Linked DNA regions of Homo sapiens. The protein of the gene in region 1 interacts with the protein of each later gene in a biochemical or structural test. Each region holds a gene or a part of one and is shown on either strand. Other genes may lie near its edges.

Region 1 (7,637 bases):
AAGGATGTTGTTGTAAGAATTAAGTAAAAGAACAAAGGCAAAGCATTTAGCAGTGCCTGCAATAAAGTAAGTCCTCAGTAAGTGTTAACTGCTATGATCATAGAGAACTGTGATAGATAATACAAGAATATTAAAAAAATAATTAGCATGAAGTTTGGCTTTTATTAATTCATTATAACACTTTCAGTACATTTACTTTCTCAATTTTATTAGACTTAGAATAATTTTAAAATTAGAATGCTTTCTGATGGAAAAAGAAAGTAGGGTGGTAGAGTGTGGTTAGTCTGAGATTAAGGAGGCATTCATATATTATCTATTCTGTGATAATAATGGTGATCAAAAGTTGATAGTCTTCTGATCAGCAAACATAACACTGGAAATATCTTTTAAAAACTGCAGTCTGTACCAGAAAGTTTGAAAGTTATGTTCTTCAAAAGGTGCTCATTTCCATTTGGAAAAGTAAACAATAACCTGCACATCAAGTGATGTTAAGACATTACTATTTTTTTGGTGTGATAATGGTACTATGATTTTCATCAAGTATTCTGATCTTTTAGAGATACACATTAAGTATTTACAAACAAAACGATACGATGTCAGGGATTATGCCAAAATAATATGCAGGAATATTCTATATAATATAGTGCAGGAATTTAGACATAATAAGCAGTCAGGAGTTGATAACTGCTCACGCTGGGTGATGAGTACATGGGGATTCATTACACTCTCCTGTCCATTGTTGAAAAGATGGCTCATGTAAAATAAATGGAGCTAGTGTGGATAAAGACAAATATCCCTATATATATATATATATATATCTTTTGCATTTGAAGAAAACACTATTAACCTAAAGCAAATGTAAATAAACAGAGAAAAAAACAAACATTCAAAAGAATACCCTCTTAGCCTGATCAAATCTAAAACACGGCCAGGCGCAGTAGTTCACGCCTGTAATCTGAGCACTTTGGAAGCCAACGCAGGTGGATCACTTGAGGTCAGAGACCAGCCTGACCAACATGGTGAAACCCTGTCTCTATTAAAAATACAAAAATTAGGGCCGGGCGCGGTGGCTCACGCCTGTAATCCCAACACTTTGGGAGGCTGAGGAGATCACAAGGTCAGGACATTGAGGCCATCCACGCTAACACAATGAAACCCCATCTCTATAAAAAATCCAAAAAATTAGCCGGGTGTGGTGGCATGTGCCTGTAGTCCCAGCTACTTGGAAGGCTGAGGCAGGAGAACCCCTTGAACCCAGGAGGTGGAGGTTGCAGTGAGCCAAGATTGCACCACTGCACTCCAGCCTGGGCCACAGAGCAATACTGTCTCAAAAAAAAAAAAAAAAGGCTGGGTGCAGTGGCCCAGGCCTGTAATACACCCAGCACTTTGGGAGGCTGAGGTGGGCGGATCAACTGAGGTCAGGAGTTCGAGACCAGCCTGGCCAACATGGTGAAACCCTGTCTCTACTAAAAATACAAAAATTAGCCAGGCGTGGTGGCATGTGCCTGTAAGCCCAGCTACTCAGGAGGCTGAGGCAGAATTGCTTGAACCCAGGAGGCAGAGGTTGCAGTGAGCCAAGATCACACCACTGCACTCCAGCCTGGGTGATAGGGCAAAACTCCATTTCAACAACAACAAAAAAATCTAAAATACTATTAGTGATCAGATATAATATACCTGGCAAATACATCTATATAAAGTCAGTAATCACTTTTTTGGCATCTACAAGAAAACATTGCTACAAGTGGAGAGTGAATGATCAAAGGTTTAAACCAGGCTTTTAAAGGTGCTAGACACAGATAGGCAAGAAAGTAGAACAATGTTATTTGCAAGGCAAAAGGTGAGACGTAACTGTGAGACGGATGATCACCAAAATAGACTAAGGAGCAGATTAAGACAGAAGTCAATCAGGAGGCTTTCTGTATGTGTATAATAAAATACTCGTCATTCTCCACCACACCACTCTTAACATCCTTTATCTGTCAATAGCACCACTACTTAAATTACCTAATACTCCAGTATAGTAAGAAACCCAGTATTTTTCTCTTCTTTTTTTTTTTTGAGACAGAGTTTCGCTCTTGTCACCCCAGCTGGAGTGCAGTGGTGCAATCTCGGCTCACTGCAGCTTCCACCTCCTGGGTTCAAGCAATTCTCCTGCCTCAGCCTCCTGAGTAACTGGGATTACAGGCGCCCACCACCACACCCGGCTAATTTATTGTATTTTAGTAGAGACAGGGTTTCGTCATGTTGGCCAGGCTGGTCTCGAACTCCTGACCTCAGGTGATCTGGCCGCCTCGGCCTCCCAAGGTGCTGGGATCGCAGGCATGAGCCACTGCGCCCGGCCAAAACCAGTGTTTTTCTATCCATCCTTTGAAATGCCTCTTCTGTAATTTCTGTTCTCATGGTCATATACTTAGACCAAGTTTCATCACTTGATGCCTGTCTTACTAAAACTCCTCCTCTGTTTATATTCTTGCTTATACTCTGTCACCCTCCCAATTTTCTCAGACACTGTCACTAGCTAAACTTTCCTAAAATGCTGCTCTTTCAGCAAATTGCTCTTCAGCTCAAAAATCATCAATGACTACTGCTGGAGTATCAAATGAAAATTAATTGGCCTGATATACAGGTCTCCTTAGTACTGGCTCCAATTATTATTATTATACATATATTTTTGAGATGGTTTCTTGCTCTATCGCCCAGGCTGGAGTGCAGTAGTGTGACATCAGCTCACTGTAGCCTCGAATTCCTGGGCTCAGATGATCCTCTCATCTCAGTCTCCTGAAGAGCTAAGACTACAGGTGCACACAACCATACCTGGCTAATTTTTTGTATTTTTAGTAAAGACGGGGTTTCGCCATGCTGCCCAGGCTGGTCTTGAACTCCTGGGTTCAAGAGATCCACCCGCCTCAGCCTCCCAAAGTGCTAGGATTACAGGCATGAGCCACCACACCCACCCTCTATTTATCTATTTAACTCATTTCTTACCAACACCTAACCCTCAACGTGAAATCTCTATCACTTGAACCATTCCCAGCATTCCTTTGCTTAAGCCATTCTTATCATTAACTGACTTGGCCCTCAAGCCTGGGCTTACTCACCCCTCCTATCTAGCTCAAGTCTCCTCTCTTCCTTCTTTGAACAACGTAGTTGACTAAAATAGTGTTTCTCAATGTTTTCTTTTTGAGACAGTCTTGCTCTGTTGCTCAGGCTGGAATGCAGTGGCACAATCTCGGGTCACTGCAGCCTCCACCTCCTGGGTTCAAGCGATTCTCCTCCTTTAGCATTCCAAGTAGCTGAGACTACAGGTGCGCACTACCACACCTGCTTAATTTTTGCATTTTTAATGGAGACGGAGTTTCACCATGTTGGCCAGGCTGGTCACAAACTCCTGACCCCAAGTGATCTGCCTGCCTCAGCCTCCCAAAGTGCTGGGATTACAGGCGTGAGCCACTGTACCTGGCCTCAAACTTTAATGTGTATATGAATCCCTAGGGATCGTGTTAAAATAGAGATTTTAATTCAGTAGCTCCAGGATGGGGCCTGAGATTCTGCATTTCTAAAGCTTTCAGGTGATATGGATTCTGCAGGTCTGTGATTCACACTCTGATACCAGAATACTTTGGGATTTCTGGATCTACACCTAATTTTCTAAATTTGTAAATATATGTTTTGGCACTTTTCATCAATACAGCTGTAAATGATTCATATTTCTTTTATATCAGATGCCAAATAAACCCAACTCAAGTCAACATTTATGAAAGTCCACTGTGTAATGAGCACTGTCCTAGGTGCTGATAGAAAGATTAAGTATTCAGCCATTTGAGTACACAGTATAGGAAAATGAGATAATATAGTGTCCCTTATGACAGGAACACAGGATAGAAGCTAAAAATGTGCTGAATTGAGAATAAACGGACATAGATTGAATCAAGGCTATAAGTCAATAAGAAACATAAAATGATATGAAAACTGACCCAGTCAATTATAAAATAATCATTTGGGATCCCAAAGGGCTGGATATAAAAACAGGGACAGGCTGAATTTTTTTGCTTTTTTCTTTTCTAAGCCTGGGTTTGTATAAAGAGTAAAGGAGGGGCAAAAGCTCTAAAGAATGGTCAGATAGGCCAGGCGCAGTGGCTCACACCTATAATCCCAAAACTCTGGGAGGCCAAGGTGGGAGGACTGCTTGAGCCAAGGAGTTAAAGACCATGCTGGGCAACATAGTAAGACCTCGTCCCTACAAAAATATTTTAAAAATTACCCAGTGCAGCGGCGCCCACCTGTAGTCCAAACTATTCAGGAAGCTGAGGTGGGAGAATTGCTTGAGGCCAGGAGGTCAAGGCGGCAGTGAGTCGTGTTTGCATCATTGCACTCCAGTTGAAAGAAAAGACAAGACAAGACAAGGAAAAAGAAAAAAAAAAAGAAAGAAAAAGAAAAGTAGATAGACCAAGGGCAAAAGGGTCAGGGTCAAAATAAAGGAAAAAAAAATCTGAAAATAATTTATGAGATAAATTAATAGTAATTTGAAAGGCAATATGCAGTTACAGTACCAAAGACATCATAAGCAATTTAAATTTCTAAGTTTCAAGAAATTGTTCCAGTGACAAGACCTATATCTAAATTCTTTAGCTACTATCTTAAATCTTACCTTTAAGAGCCTGGAGGAATTATGTCAACAAAAATGAAAATAAGGCAAAGATTATCTGTATATAATAAAAATTAAAGCTATTTTAAGAAAGTGAATTTTGGTACATTTTGAAAAATAATTATATAAAAGACTAGAATGCAATTCCATTTCCAGGAATGTACCTTATAGAAATACTTGCACAAGGACAAAATTATATATGTACAAGGCTATTCACTGCAGCATTTTTGTAATAGGAAAAGGTTAAAAACCATGTGAATGTCCATCAATAAGGGACAGGTGTCATCCCAGGGATGCTGGAATGATTTAACATATGCAAGTCAATAAATGTGATGTATCACATAAACAGAATTAAAAACAAAAACCATATGATCTCAACAGATGCAGAAAAAGCATTCAACAAAATCCAGCATCCTTTACAATAAAGAACTCAACAAATGAGGCATAGAAAGGACCTAACTCAAAATAATAAAAGCCATATATGACGACAAAGCCAACATCATACTGAATGGGGAAAAGTTGAAAGCATTCCCCCTGAGAACAGGAACAAGACAAGGACATCCACTTTCACCACTCCTATTCGACATAGTTCTGGAAGTATTAGCCAGAGGGAAAGTAGGGGAAAGCAATAAAGTGTATCCAAATTGGAAAAGAGGAAGTCAAACTATCACTGTTTGCAGATATTATGACTATATACCAAGGAAATCCTAAAGACTCCAACAGACTCTTAGATTTGATAAATGAAATCGGTAAAGTCTCAGGTTACAAAATCAATGTACACAAATCAGTAGCACTGCTATATACCAAAAACGTCCAAGCTGAGAATCAAATCAAGAGCTCAATCCCTTTTATAATAGCTGCAAAAATAAAAAATAAATAGAATACCTAGGAATATGCTTCACCAAGGAGATGACAGATCTCTACAAGGAGAACTACAAAATACTGCTGAAAGAAATCACAGATGACATAAATGGAAACTCATCCCATGCTCATGGATTGAAAGAATCAATATTGTGAAAATGACCATACTGCCCAAAGCAATCTACAGATTCAATGCGATTCCCATCAAAATACCAAGATCATTTTTCACAGAATTAGAAAAAACAATCCTAAAATTAATATGGAACAAAAAACAGCCTGAATAGCCAAAGCAATTCTAAGCAAAAAGACAAATCTGGAGACATCACATTACCAGACTTCAAATACACTACAAGCCTATAGCTACCACAACAGCATGGTACTGGTTTAAAAGTAGGCACATAGACCAATGGAACAAAATAGAGAACTCAGAAATAAAGCCAAATACATACAGCCAACTGCTCTTTGACAAAGCACACAAAAACAAAAATTGGGGAATGGACATCCTATTCAATAAATGATGCTGGGAAAACTGGCAAGCCACATGAAGAATGAAACTGGATCCCTAACTATCATCCAATGCAAAAATCAACTCAAGTTGATAAAAGATTTAAATATAAGACCTGAAACTATAAAAATTCTAGAACATTGGAAACAGTCTTCTAAACACTGGCCTAGGCAAAAAATTCATGACTAAGACCCCAAAAACAAACGCAACAAAAACAAAAATAAATAGATGGGACCTAATTAAACTAAAAAGCTTCGGCACAGCAAAACAAATAATCAACAGAGTAAACAGACCACCCACAGAATGGGAGAAAATATTTGCAAACTATGCATCCAACAAAGGACTAGTATCCAGAATCTACAAGGAACTCAAATCACAAAGAAAAAAAAACAATTGCATTAAAAACTGAGCAAAGGACATGAATAGACATTTCTCAAAAGATACACAAATGGCCAAAAAACATGAAATAATCATTAATAATTCAACATCATTAATCATCAGGGAAATGCAAATTAACCACAATGAGATACCACCGTGCTCCTACAGGAATGGTTATTCTTAAAAAGTCAAAAAATGGGCCGGGCGCGGTAGCCCCCATCTGTAATCCCAGCACTTTGGGAGGCCCAGACGGGCGATCACCTGAGGTTGGGAGTTTGAAACCAGCCTGACCAACATGGAGAAACCCGTCTCTACCAAAAATAACAAAATTAGCTGGGCATGGTGGCGTGTGACTGTAATCCCAGCTACTTGGGAGGCTGAGTCAGGAGAATTGCTTGAATCCGGGAGGCGGAGGTTGGGGTGAGCTGAGATCACGCCATTGCACTCCAGCCTGGCAACGAGAGCGAGACTCCATCTCAAAAAAAAAAAAAAAAAAAGTCAAAAAACAATAGATGTTGGTGTGGATGTGGGGAAAAGAGACCGCTTATTACACTACTATACAGCCTCTACAGAAAACAGTATGGAGACTCCTTGAAGAGCTAAAAAAGATCTACCATTCAATCCAGAAATTCCACTGCTGGGTATCTACCCAAAGGAAAGAAAGTCATTATATGAAAAAGACTTTTGCACATGTATATTTATAGCAGCACAACTCACAACTGCAAAGATGTGGAACCAATCTAAGTGCCCATCAACTGAGTGGATAAAGAAAATGTGGTATATATAAACCATGGAATACTACTCAGCCATTAAAAGGAACAAAATAATGTCTTTTGCAGCAACTTGGATGAAGCTGGAGGCCATTTTTCTAAGTGAAGTAATACAGGGGTGGAAAACCAAAAGCCGTATGTTCTCACTGTGTAAGTGGAAGCTAAGCTATGAGTATGCAAAGACATAGGTATGAAGTGATATAATGGACTTTAGAGACTCAGAAAGGGGAGGGTGAAAGGGGGCTAGGAATCAAAAACTACACATTAGGTACAATGTACATTACTTGGGTGACTAAAATCTCAGAATTCACCACCATATAATTCATCCATGTAACAAAAAACCACTTGTACTCCAAAAGCTGTTGAAATTTTATCTTTTTTTTTGGAGATGGAGTCTTGCTCTATCATCCAGGCTGGAGTGCAGTGGTGTGATCTCCACTCATTGCAACCTCCACCTCCCAGGTTCAAGCGATTC
Region 2 (7,637 bases), about 22 Mb from region 1:
CAGTATATCCAGAAGATATGTTTTTTCCTCACATTATCTCCTTATTCCTTGGCCAAGATCTGGTGAAAGCTTGATATTACCATAATACAATTGTTTCTGAAAATAGTCCAAGTATTCTGCTTAACTAGAGTGTATTTGTCATCATTGACATTCAATCCAATTAACCAAATTAAACTGACTGGATGATACTATAATTACCTCATGTTCAAAGAAGTACAATGTTACTTCTTAACAGTAGGTAGGGTCTAAAAGTGAGAAAATGACACTAAATATTAGAAGGTCAATAACATTAGATCTGTTTTTTGATGCATATTATAATCACATAAAAATAATGTAAGGTATTTACTCATGTTTTATGCCCAGCCAAAGCATAAGTAAATAGCTTACATTATTTTCTCTCCACCTCTATGTAGAAGTGAATTAAATTACATCTATCTTAAAGCAAATCTGAAGTTTAATTTACATTTATGATCTTTAGAAAGGCAAAAGTAATTAACATTATTTTATTTTTGATGCAGGTGAAAGTAGTATATCTTGGTAGTAAATTGTCACTAATTTCTTCTTTTTATATGAACTCCCATCCTTTCATAGGTTGGAATAAAAGAATGCAAAGACACAGATATTTTCCCAGTGTCCTACCACCAACTTCTGCCTATCATTCTGCTTCTAACTGCTAAGTCATAATAATTAAACACATGTTTTTGGTCATGTTTTTCATTGTTTCTAATTCCTCTTATCCCTCCCCAATTACGCGCAATAACCAAATGCACTCCATGAAGCTGGATTCATAATGAAAGTGTTTACTTTACTTATGATTAACTTCCCTGCATAATTAATGTCCCCAATCCTCCGGGTAGCCTTATTACATCTATTCTGTTTTAACATACTATCTGTCAGCTGAATACATTTTCATATTTTAGGAGTGGGGAAAAGACAGAAAAGCTCCTTGCTGACTCCGATTCTAAGATTATTTTTATCAAAAAGTATTTGCAATTATATTAGCTATTTTCATTGCTTATATAAAGTGCTATATTGGCTGATCCTCACCTGAGAAGGTAATGATTAAATTACAAATGTAAATAGGCTCCTAGCAGAGACCATTAGCAACACCTTGAGGACTTTGTAACAAGGATCTAAGGGGACAGAGGGCAGGAAAGACACACAGAGCTGGCAATAGGGGCAGCAGTGAGGTCTGACCACAGGGTTTAGGAATTCTCATTTCCCCTGGAAGTCTTCATGAGGGACACACCAAGATCTTTTATTGCAGGTGTCGTCTCCGACCTCTCAACTGCCAGCAATGCCCAGATCTGTCCACTTAAACCAAGCCTCCTGGAAAGGGGGCTGAAAGGTTGATGTGCTAGTTCTGCTTTCTCTGAAGTCTCCTCGGAAAGTACTCCTCAGCCTGAGCTCACGCTGTTTGCCTTAAAAGGATAAAATATCTGTAGGAAAAAAAAAAAAAACTGTAGCTGGCTGCAGAGACATCACATACCAAGAGAGACGCTACAAGCCCAGGACTGCTCTTCCAAGAGGCGCTCATCATTGTTTCACCTTCAACTTAGCATTGGATAGCAGGAGCTGGGACCCAAAGAAACTATCTGGCCACAGAGGCAGCTGCCCTCAGCAAGAATTTAAAAACAAAACAAACAAACAAAAAACTTGGGATGAAAGCTGATCCTAATGTGTGTCACATTTGAAAGTGGCCAGGAACCCTGGCTGGCAGGAAAGGGGAAACAAACTTACCCACTGAACAGAGCTGCTGCCACTTTTGTGTGCCCCAGGTCCTTAACAGGTAACCCCAGAGATTAAAGTGATGCTGATAGGTTCAGATGCTAGGGAGATTGGGGAGCTGAAGCTGCCTGGCTCCACTGCAAGCCAGGGACTTGGGTTGCTCAAAAAGAAACAAGAAAGGTGCTTCCCCAAAGAATAGGAATTCAAGTAGTCTGTAACAATCAACAATGAATGGGTCATAGCAGAGGTTTCTCAACCCTGGCTGAATATTATAATCACTTTGGGAGTAAAAATAATATACCTATACCTCAGGTCTACCCCAGAGCAATTAAATCATAGGCTCTGGAGGTGGTGCCCAGCAAATGTATGTTTTAAAGCTCCCTAGGTGATTGTAACATACAGCTATGTTTGAGAACCAATGGGCTAGGTAGGGAAATGATCACTTGTTTAGGAGAATAAACAAGAAGGCATCAACTAAACTACACGTACAATTTGTCTACACGTACAATTTGGCAAAAAAAAAAATCCAGCTATGCTTTCGCAGGCCCCTAGTGCTTAAAGGTTTTAGCCAATAGAGACATTCAACTCTTTAGATGAACACTTTATCCTGGTCTTTTGTTTAATATCACACACAAATGTACACACACAACAAACACACACACTCCTCTTGTCATCTTCCTATTAGAGTGGTTATCAAATTTTGCTACACGTTAAAGTTACATGGAGAATCATCAAAAATTACTGATATGTAGCTTCCAACACCCGGACATTCTGATTTTAATTGGTTTGTGGTACAATCTAGGAATTGGATTTTTATGTTCCCCATGTGATTCTAATGCGCAGGAAAGTTTGGGAACCGCCGTCCTACATTATTTCTTCCACTAGTCCCAGAGTCCTTCTGCTTCCTATTTAATTATTGGTGAACAGATACACCCCAGAGAATGACCTATATGTTATTCATAAAGTTTTCCTGCAGCTACCTAATCCCCATGACCCTTTGGGCAGTAAGAGAGCCTAGTGGCTAAGGAGAAAAGCTCTGGAGCTCAAATTCAGGCTCAACCTAGTGTGACTGTGGGCAAGTTGCTTCACTTCTCTGCGCCCCAGAGTTCTTTTTCTCATGCTGTGAAATTGGGATAATCCAGAATCTTCCTCATAGGGTTGTTTTTGTCCTAAAAAAAAGATGATCAGGTGGGGTGCGGTGGCTTACATATGTATTCCCAGCACTTTCTTTGGAGGCCCAGATGCTGGAGAATCATTTGAGGCCAGAAGTTCAAGACCAGCCTGTGCAACTGAGACCCTGTCTCTACAGAAAAAAATTAAAAATTATCCAGGTGTGGTGCTATGTGCCTATAATCTTGGCTACTCTGGAGGCTGAGGCAAGAGGATCACTTGAGCCCAGGAGTTTGAAGCTGCAGTGAGCTATGGCTGTGTCACTGCACTCCAGCCTGGGCAATAAGACAGAAAGAACCTGTCTCAATCAATCAATCAATCATTCAATCAATGAAAGAGACAATCTATATAAAGCACAGGAGCAGTGCCTGGCACAGAGTTAGTGCTCCATAAATGTTACCCAATCTGATGATGATGAGCAGTGTAATTCTTGATGCTTTCATTCAGAAGCAGGATGCACTGAGTTGTTGCCCTTATTCTTGTCCTCTGCACTGTTGGCTGCACAAACACCACCAAGTCCTCAATGATGTCAAATTAAGGAGCATTTCAAAGGGACAATACAATGCATTCAAAACAAGCACTGGTCTAATGGGAAACTATCTTCAGTATAGCTCCCTAAGAAGGCAAGCCTTCGATATACTCTAATTTGGGTGTCTCTTCTCTATGGCAGTCTTCATCCATAAAGTACTATCTTACTTGCAAGCTCTTTTCCAGTCTTGTCACCTATTTACTTGCACACAAAGCCTATCACTATTTTCCAACTTCCTTGCAAATATGGCATAGTTTTACCAATACCCATCTCGTTTCGCCCTTTCTTGTTCCCTCGATATGCATTTCTTCTTCTCACTCTACTCTCCAGCTTTTTTCATTGCTTATAAATTTCACGCTTAAAATATAGGCAGCCTCTAGAAGCTGAAAAAGACAAGATATGGAGTCTCCCCTAGAGCCTCCAGAAGGAATGCTTATATGAATTTTATAAGCAATGAAAAAAGCTGGAGAGTAGTATGCTTATAAAATTCATTCAGAAATAAGACAGTTTTGAGAGTGTACTATTAGTTCCACATTGTGTTAAACATCTGTTTTGTGTAGCTGAAGTTTTTGTGCTATTGTTTATATTTACAGGACAGTTTTGGAGGGAGAAAATTCCTCTGCTCTTACAAACAAAATTATCCTTAGAGAGTTCAAACAGGTTGCACATACTGAACTTCTCAGAAAATAAATTTTAAGGAAGTGCTGAGGAACACAGTCGTTACAGAAGATGGTGAGAGGGAAGCAGAACCGGTGTCAGAACTGAGTGTGAGGAAGCAGACAAGGGCTGTCGGGGAAGGGGTGGCAAACAGTACCAGCTCAACAATTCAGATTAGGATACAAAATGCCAAGGATGTGATTGCATAATAAGTTGTTGAGCATACTGGTAAATGCTGCTTTCAGCATGTGCTTATTTATCACATTGTCTTGCGTTCTCTGAGCTTGAAAGGTTCAAGTCAGAGGATCTGGAATGCTAGCAACAGACCCAGTTTCTTGGGATGGGCTGCAGCACCTATGGTAGAGATGGCAGAAAGAGCAGCAGCCTGGTGTTCGAATATGGTTGCTAGGATACCATGGAGACCCTCCATTGCTAGGCAGACAGAAAAAAAAATGTGTCCATATGCCTTATAACCTGCAAACAGCAACAATAGAAACATCATCTGTGTTCTTCTACCCTTTCCCATTAGGAATCCAGATAACAAGTAGCAGGAGCTTGGAAATGTGACCCAGTAGAGCAAGGAAGCTGGTAATTTATATTCTCAGGCAGGTAGTAGAGCCATTCTATTTAAGAGCTTACCAGTATCTTCATTATAAGACCCATTTTGGGGGCATGCAACTTGACTGTGCTTCAAAATACCCTAATAGGGTTTTAGCACGCTGGTCTCATACATTTTTATAAATGCTCCCGGGACTTCATTTCTACTGCATAAACTGTAATGTCAAATTAACAATCAACCTTAAATTAGAAACTCTATTAGAATAACATTAGGTTGGAATTTAACTCCTCCACAAAAACAAGAAAGATGACTTTCGAAAAACAACTTCAGGTTCAATTCTCATTGATGTTCAGTTTGCCTAGGTATGTGAGGAATCTGCAGTGCTAGTCTGTGGCATCAAGTTAGATTACTTTCAATGAGAACATTTGGAAGTGAGTGGAAAAAGGAACTTGGAACTTGGTTTCTTTAAGACTTCTAATCATCTGCTGTTTGCTTCAATTAACTACTCTTACCTAGTTATATAGTTACGACTATTAACAGGACTGTGATGGTGGGGGTAAGAAAGCTGAACTGATATTCTGGCATTCAGAACTGCATTAGTGGGTAACTATTAGTCCTTGGTGTAAAACACACACACACACACACACACACAAATGAGCCTTAGCTATTCTAAAACCCAAAAGAATGCCCTCTCGCCTACTTTATCAAATCATAGAAACCAAGATTCTCATTCTCACTGGCCTAAACTTGCTTTTCCACAGTTCCCACTACAGTACTTTAGCACAGCCACTAGTTGCTCCCAATTCCCAGAGGGGCCCTGCTTTCTTTTTCTGTGCTGTCACTTTGCTAATGGCTTGGAATGTATTTCCCCAATCCCTATCTCTATCCCTCCCTCTTTCCTCTCATTTCCACTCACCTAAATCATAGCCCTTCTTCAAATACTTACTTTAAACCCTTCTACTTCCACATGAGTTTCTGACACCATAAAACCAAACAGGCTTGATTATATTTTGCCAACTCTCTTAGTTATCTCCCCTGTGACTTACCTTACTCTATCTACTTTCTAGAATATTTACTTGTGCAGTATTGTTAACCCCTTGTTCACTCCTGGATGGTAGGACCTATGTAGCTCTTACCTCTAATGCCTTACAATATTTTGCATGTCACAGGCAATCCCATAGAAGTATTGAACTGAGATGTAGGGCACTTTTGGAATTAAATTTCTACCTTTCAAGCCATCTATGTTTTAATATTATGCCATCTATGATTACACTAGAATTCTAGAATTCTCTCAACTTCCAACAGAATTTAATATACAGTCTTTAGGAACATTTTGTTTTTCTTGAGATATATCAGTATAAAGTTTAAAAGATTAAATAATCTCTTAAAATGAATGCCTCCTTAAAAATAAAAATAGGCCGGGTGCGGTGGCTCACACCTGTAATCCCAGCATTTTGGGAGGCCAAGGCAGGCGGATCATGAGGTCAGGAGATCAAGACCATCCTGGTAACACTGTGAAACCCCGTCTCTACTGAAAATACAAAAAAATTAGCCGGGCGTGGTGGCTGGCGCCTGTAGTCCCAGCTACTCAGGAGGCTGAGGCAAGAGAATGGTGTGAACCCGGGAGGCAGAGCTTGCAGTGAGCTGAGATGGCACCACTGCACTCCAGCCTGGGCGATAGAGCGAGACTCCGTCTCAATAAATAAATAAATAAATAAATAAATAAATAAATAAATAAATATAAATAAATATTTTTATCCTCAACTCCTCCAAAGTACTTCGCAATGAAAAAGTGAAACAGGGGCCAGGTGTGGTGGCTCACATCTGTAATCTCAGCACTTTTGGAGGCCCAGGTGGGCTGATAACCTGAGTTCAGGAGTTCAAGATCAGCCTGGCCAAAATGGCGAAACCCCATCTCTACTAAAAAAAAAAAAAAAAAAAAAAAATAGCCAGGCATTGGTGGCACGTGCCTGTAATCCCAGCCACTCAGGAGGCTGCGATGGGAGAGTTGCTTGAACCCTGGAGGCGGAGGTTACAGTGAGCCAAGATCGTGCCACTGCACTCCATCCTGGGTGACAGAGTGAGACTCTGTCTCAACAACAACAACAAAGGAAAAAGAAAGGAAACAAAATAGAACATGGAGTGAAAGCAACAGCTTACAAAAATACAAAGACACTAACCACTTTTAGGAACTCAAGTCTATATAATCCAACTGAAATGACTGAAACCCTGTGACATGAAAATGGAAAAGATTTGGGAATATTTTCAAAAGATAAGGGGTTTAGATCAAAATTTCAGAGACTGAATGTTCTAACATGATATAGAATCAATTTCAGGAATGAAACTTCATGAAATAAAATTACTTAAGTCCATAAGAACTATTCTATATAGGCAATCAACAGGCTATCTGATCTCACATAATGAATGCTTAGGTTTTGTTTTTCATTTTAAGGGTTTATTTGCTCAGTTTATTTCCAAATATAGTTTAGTAGTTTTACATTCTCAAGGAGTTATTTGGTAGCAGTGGAATACAGATTCCAATTTGCTACATCAGTTCTTTCCTTCACATAAGTATTGTATCTATACAGATTGTGAAAGAGACCAATAAAAACCCTCCTCCTACCTCATAGTTATAGCAGGAGTGTCCTGGCTCAGTGCTGGAATCTGACAGAACCTTCCCTCCAATTCCCACATTAAAGGAAAAATTCCAAGCCAAAAATGTTAAAATGATTCAAGTTATTAAGTTAATTTACATTTTATACTATTTTTAAATGACCAAATTTACCAAGAAACCAGAACTAAAAAAAATTATAATCCTCAGAAGGCAACCTTAGTAAGTAAAAACTAAACAGATATATTTGCATATATCAGATAAATGAACAGAACATTAGCGGGGCAGTTACCTACATCTAAAAAAAAGAGAATCAAAAACTAGCATGAACGTAAACTGGAAATTAATGTGTCTATTTAGATAGTTTCATTTTAACTGGAAAC
Region 3 (7,834 bases), on another chromosome or scaffold:
AAGGTCGGACTGTTGGACCATTTTCTTCAATTCCTGATAATGTTCCACATTCTCCAGGACTCTCTCGTCATAACCACCTGCCACGATCAGATGAACCCTCTCCCAATCTTGGGATGTCAATCTTCCACGCAGCTGTACTAGGGCTTCCAGTGCCAAAGTCAGATTTTTCTTCCTTTCGTATCTGTTGATGGAGAGCAGCAGGAATTTTTTCCCCTTGGGGACTAGGTCATCCAGCTTTTCAGGAACAACTGAGTCAAAGCTGGTGACATTTAGAGATGGATAGAGGACATCAGGGTCTATGTGAGACAGGGACTTGAATGTTTCCTTAAAAACAGCAGCTGTGAACTGGCTGTTGACTAAGATGCAGTCTGCCATGCCTGTGGTGTATTCCTCTATCCAGTCAATTGGGGCCCTGTATAGTCGTTTAAGAAAAGAATCTCTCTTGGTGAGAAGCAGATCTGGGAAGTGACAGTAAAATAGGATCTTCTTCCGCCGTCTAGCCAGCCTGAACACTGGGATACAGGCAGACACCTAGCCAAAGCAAAAATCAACAGCGGATAAAGTGGTCAACTCAACTTCAACCAAACCAAAAACACAGACACCCACCCCGTCTGGCTAGTCTGTGGGCTCCTCATGGGCAATGTCTGATTCTGTTTTATTCCCCAAGACTCTCACCCAGTACCATATGCCTGGTGTACAGAAGGCTACAGACGTTTGCTAGATGTGTGCTAAACATTTAAAGCTTCAAGTCCAGTGATTTCCTCTTGTATAGTGCTGTCTAATAGAAATCTAGTAATATTAAAAATGTTTTTAAGGGTGAAATTAATTTTAACATATTATTTACCGAAAACATTATCATTTCAAAATGTAACCAATACTAAACAGTATTAATGAGATACTTTATATATACATATATTTCACATTACATCTTCAAAATCGGTTTGTATTTTAACTTTAGCACATCTCAGTTTAGACTAGCCACATTTCAAGTGCTCAACAGCCACATGTGGCTAGTGGCTACCATACTGAACAGTGCCGCTCTAGGATCTTTCTCCTTCTAAGGAACTGAATGAATGAACTATAGTAGTTTAGAGCACAAGCTCTAGATTCAAGACTGCCAGGGTTTGAATCTCAGCTCTACTAACTGGCCACGATCAAGTAATTTATCCCACTCTGGGCCTTAGTTTCCTCTTCTGTAACATGGTGACAAATTATAGTTCAAAAAACCCATATACTTTTTGTGATTATTAAATGCACTGATATATGCAAAACACATGGAGTTTAGCACACAGTATGTGCTCAATAAATATTAAAGCTAGTCATCATTGAGCATGAACTACATGCTGGCATTACTACAGACTTTCTTGTTGGGTAATCTTTACAAGTCATTTTAGTCTCAGCTAACTTAAAACCTGAAGAAGGTAACTTTAGGGATAATGTGCAATTTATTCAAAGCCACTTAATTAAAGCAGTAGATACGGAACTTGAATCCAAGATGCCTATTTCCAAGCCAATAATTTTTCCTCTACCCACTATAGTCTCAGCTGCCTCATGTCTACTGACACATGCAGGATGTTTGGTAAATGTCCACGTTACTTAAAAAGAAAGCTTCCATGCAAGCAAGGATGATCAAAAGTAACTCAGGAGTCATAATTAAAGAAACACAAATACAAATGTGATGCCATCTGCACCTATCAGTTTGGCAAAGTTTAAAATGGTTAATATCCAAGGCGGACAAAAGCATGGAGTAAGAGGCTCTATCATACATTGTGGGGGAGTAAAGTGACACAGCCTCCTTGGTAGGCAAACTTGGCAGTAGCTATTGATATTTAAAATGAACAACTCTTAGACCCACCAACTTTAGGAATTTCCTCAAACGACATATTTGCAGAAGTACAAAAATATTTTAAAAAAAAGAAGTAAAAGGATGTTCATTACAACACTGATCTATTCACAAAAAACTAGTCACAACATTAGTGTCCTTTAAGGAGAATGTTTAATTATGACACACTTAAACAAAAGTGGATTTTCTGGCCACTATGAAGAATGAAGTGAATCTCTAATATTGATACATAAGAATGTCCCGGCTGGGCGCAGTGGCTCATGCCTGTAATCCCAGCACTTTGGGAGGCCGAGGTGGGCGGATCGCGAGGTCAGGAGTTCGAGACCAGCCTGGCCAACATGGTGAAACCCCATCTCTACTAAAAATAGAAAAAATTAGCCGGGCGTGGGGCGCGCACCTGTACTCCCAGCTACTCTGGAGGCGGAGGTTGCAGTGAGCCGAGATCGCGCCACTGCACTCCAGCCTGGGAGACAGAGCAAGACTCCGTTTCAAAATAAATAAATAAATAAATAAATTTTTGCTGAAAAAGATGCCTAATAGTAGGTATGTCATAATACCAATTATGTACCAATAAGAAGATATAGATATACCTATGAAAAGACACAGGCTGGTGTCACCACAACTTCTGAAAAAATACAAGAGAAACTTAACGGTGGCTATCTTCAGGGAGTAGAATAGGACGGGGCTTTTAGGTTACATCCTTCTATACTACTAAATTTTTAATCGAGTAAATGTTACTTTTTAAAGTCATCTTTTTTAGGATGGGGAAAAATGCACGAAGGAAAGAGTCAAGAATAGCTACAGGGCAGATCCAGGTGGACATTATTTACCAAGGTAAAAAGCTTGAACTTTTCTCCAAAAACCAATGGGGAGCCATGTACAAGTTTTAATAGGGGCATGATATATTCAGCTTGGCGTTTTTAACACATGACACTGCTGAGGACGGTGTGGCCTGGCTCCGAACACAAGGACAGTGGGATGCAAATGGCCTGAAAGGAGAGTCAACAAAAATAACAGGTAAGCGGGAAGACAACACGCGAGTTACTCATTAGTAAAAGGTGACTGAAGCTGACTTCTAATACCAGCGTTTCTCAGAGCCCCAAAGACTATCTACCTCGGAATCACCCTATGACCCAGTTAAAATGCAGATGTCTGGGCCCCACCTCAGGGCACCTGGATGAAAACTTCCTGGAGGATGGAACCCCAGCAATCTGCAACTTTAAATGGGCCCACACTAAAGTTAGAGAACCACAGGCTCGCTCACAACCCTGACTTCTCCATGTCAGTTCCGATCTTTGCGAACCGCAGACAGGGAAGGTCTTCTCTCAGGGGTCATGCCCGCGGCCGCCCTCCACGGCGAGGTCCGCACTCGCGCAGCCGGCCCCGCGGCCGCCTCACCTGGTCGCACACTACCACGTCGAACTCCTCGTCGGCGAGGAACAGCACGTAGAGCGCCAGGAAAACCATGCGCACGTAGGCGCAGACGGCGGCGCCGCGGCCGCCCCAGCCCAGGCCTCGCGGCAGCCAGTCCCCGGCACAGCGCACCGGTAGCTCGCGGCTCTCGGCGAAACAGTGGCCCGGGTCGTAGTGCGCTGTCCAGATCTTCACGCTACACCCGCGCGCCTGCAGCGCCAGCGCCGCGTCCAACACCAGCCGCTCAGCGCCGCCCACGCCCAGGTCTGGGTGGAGGAACAGCACCGACGGCTTGGGAACCGAGTCCCGTTCCCGGCCCTGCTCCTCCGCCATGGCCCTGGAGCCGCAACTGCACCCCGCACCCTGATGGGGGTCTTCTGCGCAAGCTCCGCGCTCGTAGCTCCCAGCTGGCCACTGCGGGCCGACCCCGCCCTGCCGTACGTGCGTCAGTTAGGCCACATCAGCGCAAATCTGTGAGGGTCTAGTAACTGCCTGAGAAAATATCTTGTCTGACCCCGGTTATATTTTTCCTTCGGTAGGGATTGGACTTTCTGAAGGACGTTGTGATCCAAAGGAAGGAGGCCGGAGGTCTCTACTTCCCATACAGCAGGTAACTAAGTTGTCTGTAGCAGACTGTCTACAGGCATATCGTGAGACGACCCAGGCGTCCCTGGGGTCAGAGAGGACCTTGCCTGCAAGTCCGGGGGCGGGGCCTGAGTCAGTCTCGCCAGCTGCCGGTCTTTCGGGGGCTCCGTAACTTTCTATCCGTCCGCGTCAGCGCCTTGCCACCCTCATCTCCAATATGGTATGGCGGCCCTTCCATGATCCCCGCCTCTCCCAGAAGCCCTGACTCCTCCTGCTTTGCGCCGTGCTTTTCCTCTGTAGCTCCCTTGCTTCCCCCAGCCTCGGGTGTGGGTGTCTAGGCCGGGGTTCTGGGGCAGGCCTGCCGCGCTCACCCGTCTGTCTGCTTGTCTCCCTCTACAGCCTGGTCCGACCCCCAGTGGCACTAACGTGGGATCCTCAGGGCGCTCTCCCAGCAAAGCAGTGGCCGCCCGGGCGGCGGGATCCACTGTCCGGCAGAGGTAAGGAACCCTGCAGTTCGTTCGCTTCCAGACTCGGAGATAGGACCCAGAACCTCGCTGATTCTGGGGTGGAGACCCTAGCATGTGAAGATTGACAAAGGCAAAATGAGCTTCTAGTGACGTGGCCGTGGGAGTAGTTAAAGGCCTTTTGGGAGGAAGGCGACATTTTTTTTCTCGTTGCTCAGTTTAGGGCACTACTCTTAAAAAAGGAAAGTTAACAAACTGGAATAGAGTCAGAGATAACTTTGAGAAAACCGATGTCATTAAACTGGTGTCTCTGGACCTGAGGTTTGCACTCACATTTCCATCTGGCGGCCCCATAAGCAATCTGTCCTACAGATAACTCGTCCTACACAAAACTTAGTCTCTTTTCAGCTCAGCTCTCTCACTCTCAATTATATCTCCTTACTTCCATATGGCACTGTTGTACACTCATTTACTCAGAGCCAGAAACGTCAGCGTCATCTTGGATTTTTCTTATGCTCTTTCTCTCTCTAGTCATATGCCAGACTTTAAACTCTGCTTGAAAGCTTTCTCATAAGCTCTTTCCTTTTCCCTTTCTACTGCTTTGCATTTGCTACTTAACCCTTTTCTTCAGGCTGTTTGCTTTCCAGTCCATCGTTCGCTCTGCTGTTACTCTTCTGCGTAGTTTCTGTTACTTGTTGCTGAACTAAAAAAAACAAACAAACAAAAAAAAAAAACCGGGGGGATACCAAAGCTCTTAGTGGTCATTTCAGCCTAACCTTTCTTTTTCCTTTTTTTTTTTTTGGGATGGAATCTCACTCTGTCGCCCAGGCTGGAGTGCAGTGGCACGATCTCGGCTCACTACAGCCTTTGCCTCCAGAGTTCAAGCAATTCTCCTGCCTCAGCCTCCTGAGTAGCTGAGACTGCAGGCACGTGCCACCACACCCAGCTAATTTTTTGTATTTTTAGTAGAGACGGGGTTTCACCATGTTAGCCAGGATGGTCTCGATCTCCTGACCTTGTGATCCTCCGTCTCTGCCTCCAAAAGTGCTGGAATTACAGGCGTGAGCCACTGCGCCCGGCCTTCAGCCTAATCTTTCTTTGCTGTCCTATGATCCAGCACTCGTGAACCCATTACTGTTTTCTGAATTCACAAACTTTCTCCCTCATCTCAAGGCAAATTTCTACTTATTTTCCAAGACTAAGCTCAGGGGTTATTTCCTCTTGAGGCCTTCTCTGTCTGTAAGCAGCAGTAGCTACTAGTTTTCCCTTTTGCCCCCATAGCATTTTGTTCATATCATTATAAGACCAGTGATGTTTCCATATTTATCTCCTTCATTAGACTTTAACAGAGAACCTGCTCAAGTCATTTCTATCCCAGGTACCCACCATAAGGCATGACACAATAAATAATGACTGAAGGAAGGAATCAAGCAACCAAGTTGTTTTGGGATTTTTGAAGGAACTAGTGGGGTTTTATCTAGGGAGGAAAAAATCTTGAACACATGCATGGAAACTTCTGAAGGATGTGAAGAGGGATGTGACATTTTCTGGCTGCAACAGGTAAATCTAAAACTGATGATTTGAACTTACATGAAATATTTCACATCAGAACAAAGACATTCTAATAGAACTGGCAGAAATGTAAAATTATCCTGAATGATTTTGAGTTCCCTGTCATTGGGATGTTCATGAGGAGTGTATCAGGCTGTGGTTTAACTTATATGGGCTTTGAGTGCTGTCCCCTTCCCACCCTGGGTTTTAGAGATTTTTCGTGCAGGAATGGAAAACATGTCCTGTGGGTGCGGTTCCTTGGGAATGGTTCTGCTTAATGAGAATTGGTAATACTGTGGCAGGGAAGTTTGGCCATCCGAGAATTTGTAAAGAAATAAAAGAAAAAGCACATATTTATCAAATGTACATATGATAATGAAATTATTTATTTAATAGTAAAAATGAAATAACTGATGCACAAGTGAAATGGAGAACTGAAACATTTGAAGACAGACAGATGCAGTTTTTAAAGTCGTGGGTGTTGGTGTCATCTTTTAGGATTCAGTGTGATAGAGCTAGTGTAACAAGAAAGACCATGGTTGTATGTATTGAGAGACCTGACAGTGTTTCCTTCTAGAATGGTAGTGATTAAGTATCATTTCATGAGTATAATGTAATAAGTATTGGTTGTTTAAGAATATCTTTGCTTTATAAGTCTGAGAAAACATTGGAAGTTAATGATTCATAATAGTGCTTTGGATTATGTTGTCTGTAGAGCTGCCTTCTCCATGCTTGATGAGGTGATAGATACTACCTTGGAGGAGAAATGTTATTAAATTTAAGCTCAGGCCAGAGTTGGTGTTCTTGCTCTCCTAAATACAATATAAAAGGAACTTGCTGTGAGGAGCAATAATGCTTTATAAACTGTAAAGGTGTGAAGTGCCACATAGTGTTCTAGCAGGATTAATGGGAATCAGGGATATTAAGATGGCGGAATAGCCACCAATGTATAGACATCAAGGTATTGAGGTCTACTACATGCCAAATGCTGTTTCATCTCCGAAGATGGGTCTGTGAACAAGGTAGGCAAGGTTTGTACTCATGAACCTTATATTCCAGTGTGGGAGATCAAACGCAAGGAAAATAAGACAATGTAATTTCAGGCAATAAGGGCTATGAAGATAAATAAAGCTGGGTGGGGGATAGAGAGTGGTGGGGATAGGGCAAAGGTAGGTAGTTGTTTTAGATAGGGTGTTCACAGTAGGTAATACCTGAGTAGATACCTGAAAGAAGCAAGAGAGCAAATCACACAATGGTTTGGGGACGAATAGGCCTCCTAGGCAAAAGGAGTGGGTAAGTATGAAGATTCTGAGGTCGATGAGGTTGGCTTTGAGGAGCAACAGAAGCACCATGTTAGAACCAAGTGTGTAACTGGTTAGTTTTGAAAACCATTGTGTTGAGGTATAGAAGGGAGAGACAGTTACACAGTGGCCAGAAAGAAAGGGTAAAATAGCCCCCAAATACAAATTTGAGAGATTCAATGTGTTTTATTAACCTTTACCTAGCTACCCCTAGGGAATGGGAAGTATTTTGAGTACACTTTAGTATTTCTAGGGGCTCTGGTTTTCAAATACTCTTCTATGTTCCATGCGCCAGCAGAAATAAGAAATCTTAAGAGAAGCCAGCCTGACTCCTCTGGGGCTCCTGTAATTCCAGGAAACTTTGAAGTCAGGAACTGGAGGTGTGATATTGTGGAAATAGTAGGAAGTGCATGCGTCCAAGTCCTGGCTCAGTCCATGACTATAATATGTTCACACTGGGTTTATCTTCTAGCTTAAAATCCTTTTCAATGAACAAGGAGGAAGATTTCAGCTGCATACCCCACAGATGGAATGACATATATCTGTGTGTGTGAAACCTTTTCTAAGGGCATGAATCTTTCTGTAAATCCCTGTACAGTTATGTTTTGCCATTTACAATCAGTTTTCCCATAGGAATGGTCACACAATGAAGTTTTAAGTTCCCAGGCTACCACGTA

What was found.
Region 2: of the proteins of ANXA7 (region 1) and PRKG1, one has a biochemical effect on the other in vitro, tested with the Homo sapiens proteins (one study listed by BioGRID).
Region 3: the proteins of ANXA7 (region 1) and ALG2 form a complex in vitro, tested with the Homo sapiens proteins (one study listed by BioGRID).

What each region holds. Positions count from the first base shown.
Region 1 is NC_000010.11:73,403,912-73,411,548, forward strand, and holds part of ANXA7 (annexin A7), read right to left. Parts: intron 4,408-7,637; exon of another isoform or gene 4,265-4,407; intron 1-4,264. UniProt on the Homo sapiens protein: Calcium/phospholipid-binding protein which promotes membrane fusion and is involved in exocytosis.
Region 2 is NC_000010.11:51,077,338-51,084,974, reverse strand, and holds part of PRKG1 (cGMP-dependent protein kinase 1), read right to left. Parts: intron 1-7,637. UniProt on the Homo sapiens protein: Serine/threonine protein kinase that acts as a key mediator of the nitric oxide (NO)/cGMP signaling pathway. GMP binding activates PRKG1, which phosphorylates serines and threonines on many cellular proteins.
Region 3 is NC_000009.12:99,218,306-99,226,139, forward strand, and holds the start of ALG2 (alpha-1,3/1,6-mannosyltransferase ALG2), read right to left. Parts: upstream 3,638-7,834; 5' UTR 3,590-3,637; coding exon 3,242-3,589; intron 3,211-3,241; exon of another isoform or gene 2,743-3,210; coding exon of another isoform or gene 2,674-2,742; intron 532-2,673; coding exon 1-531. Other genes in the region: SEC61B (protein transport protein Sec61 subunit beta), read left to right, coding at 5,812-5,865. UniProt on the Homo sapiens protein: Mannosyltransferase that operates in the biosynthetic pathway of dolichol-linked oligosaccharides, the glycan precursors employed in protein asparagine (N)-glycosylation.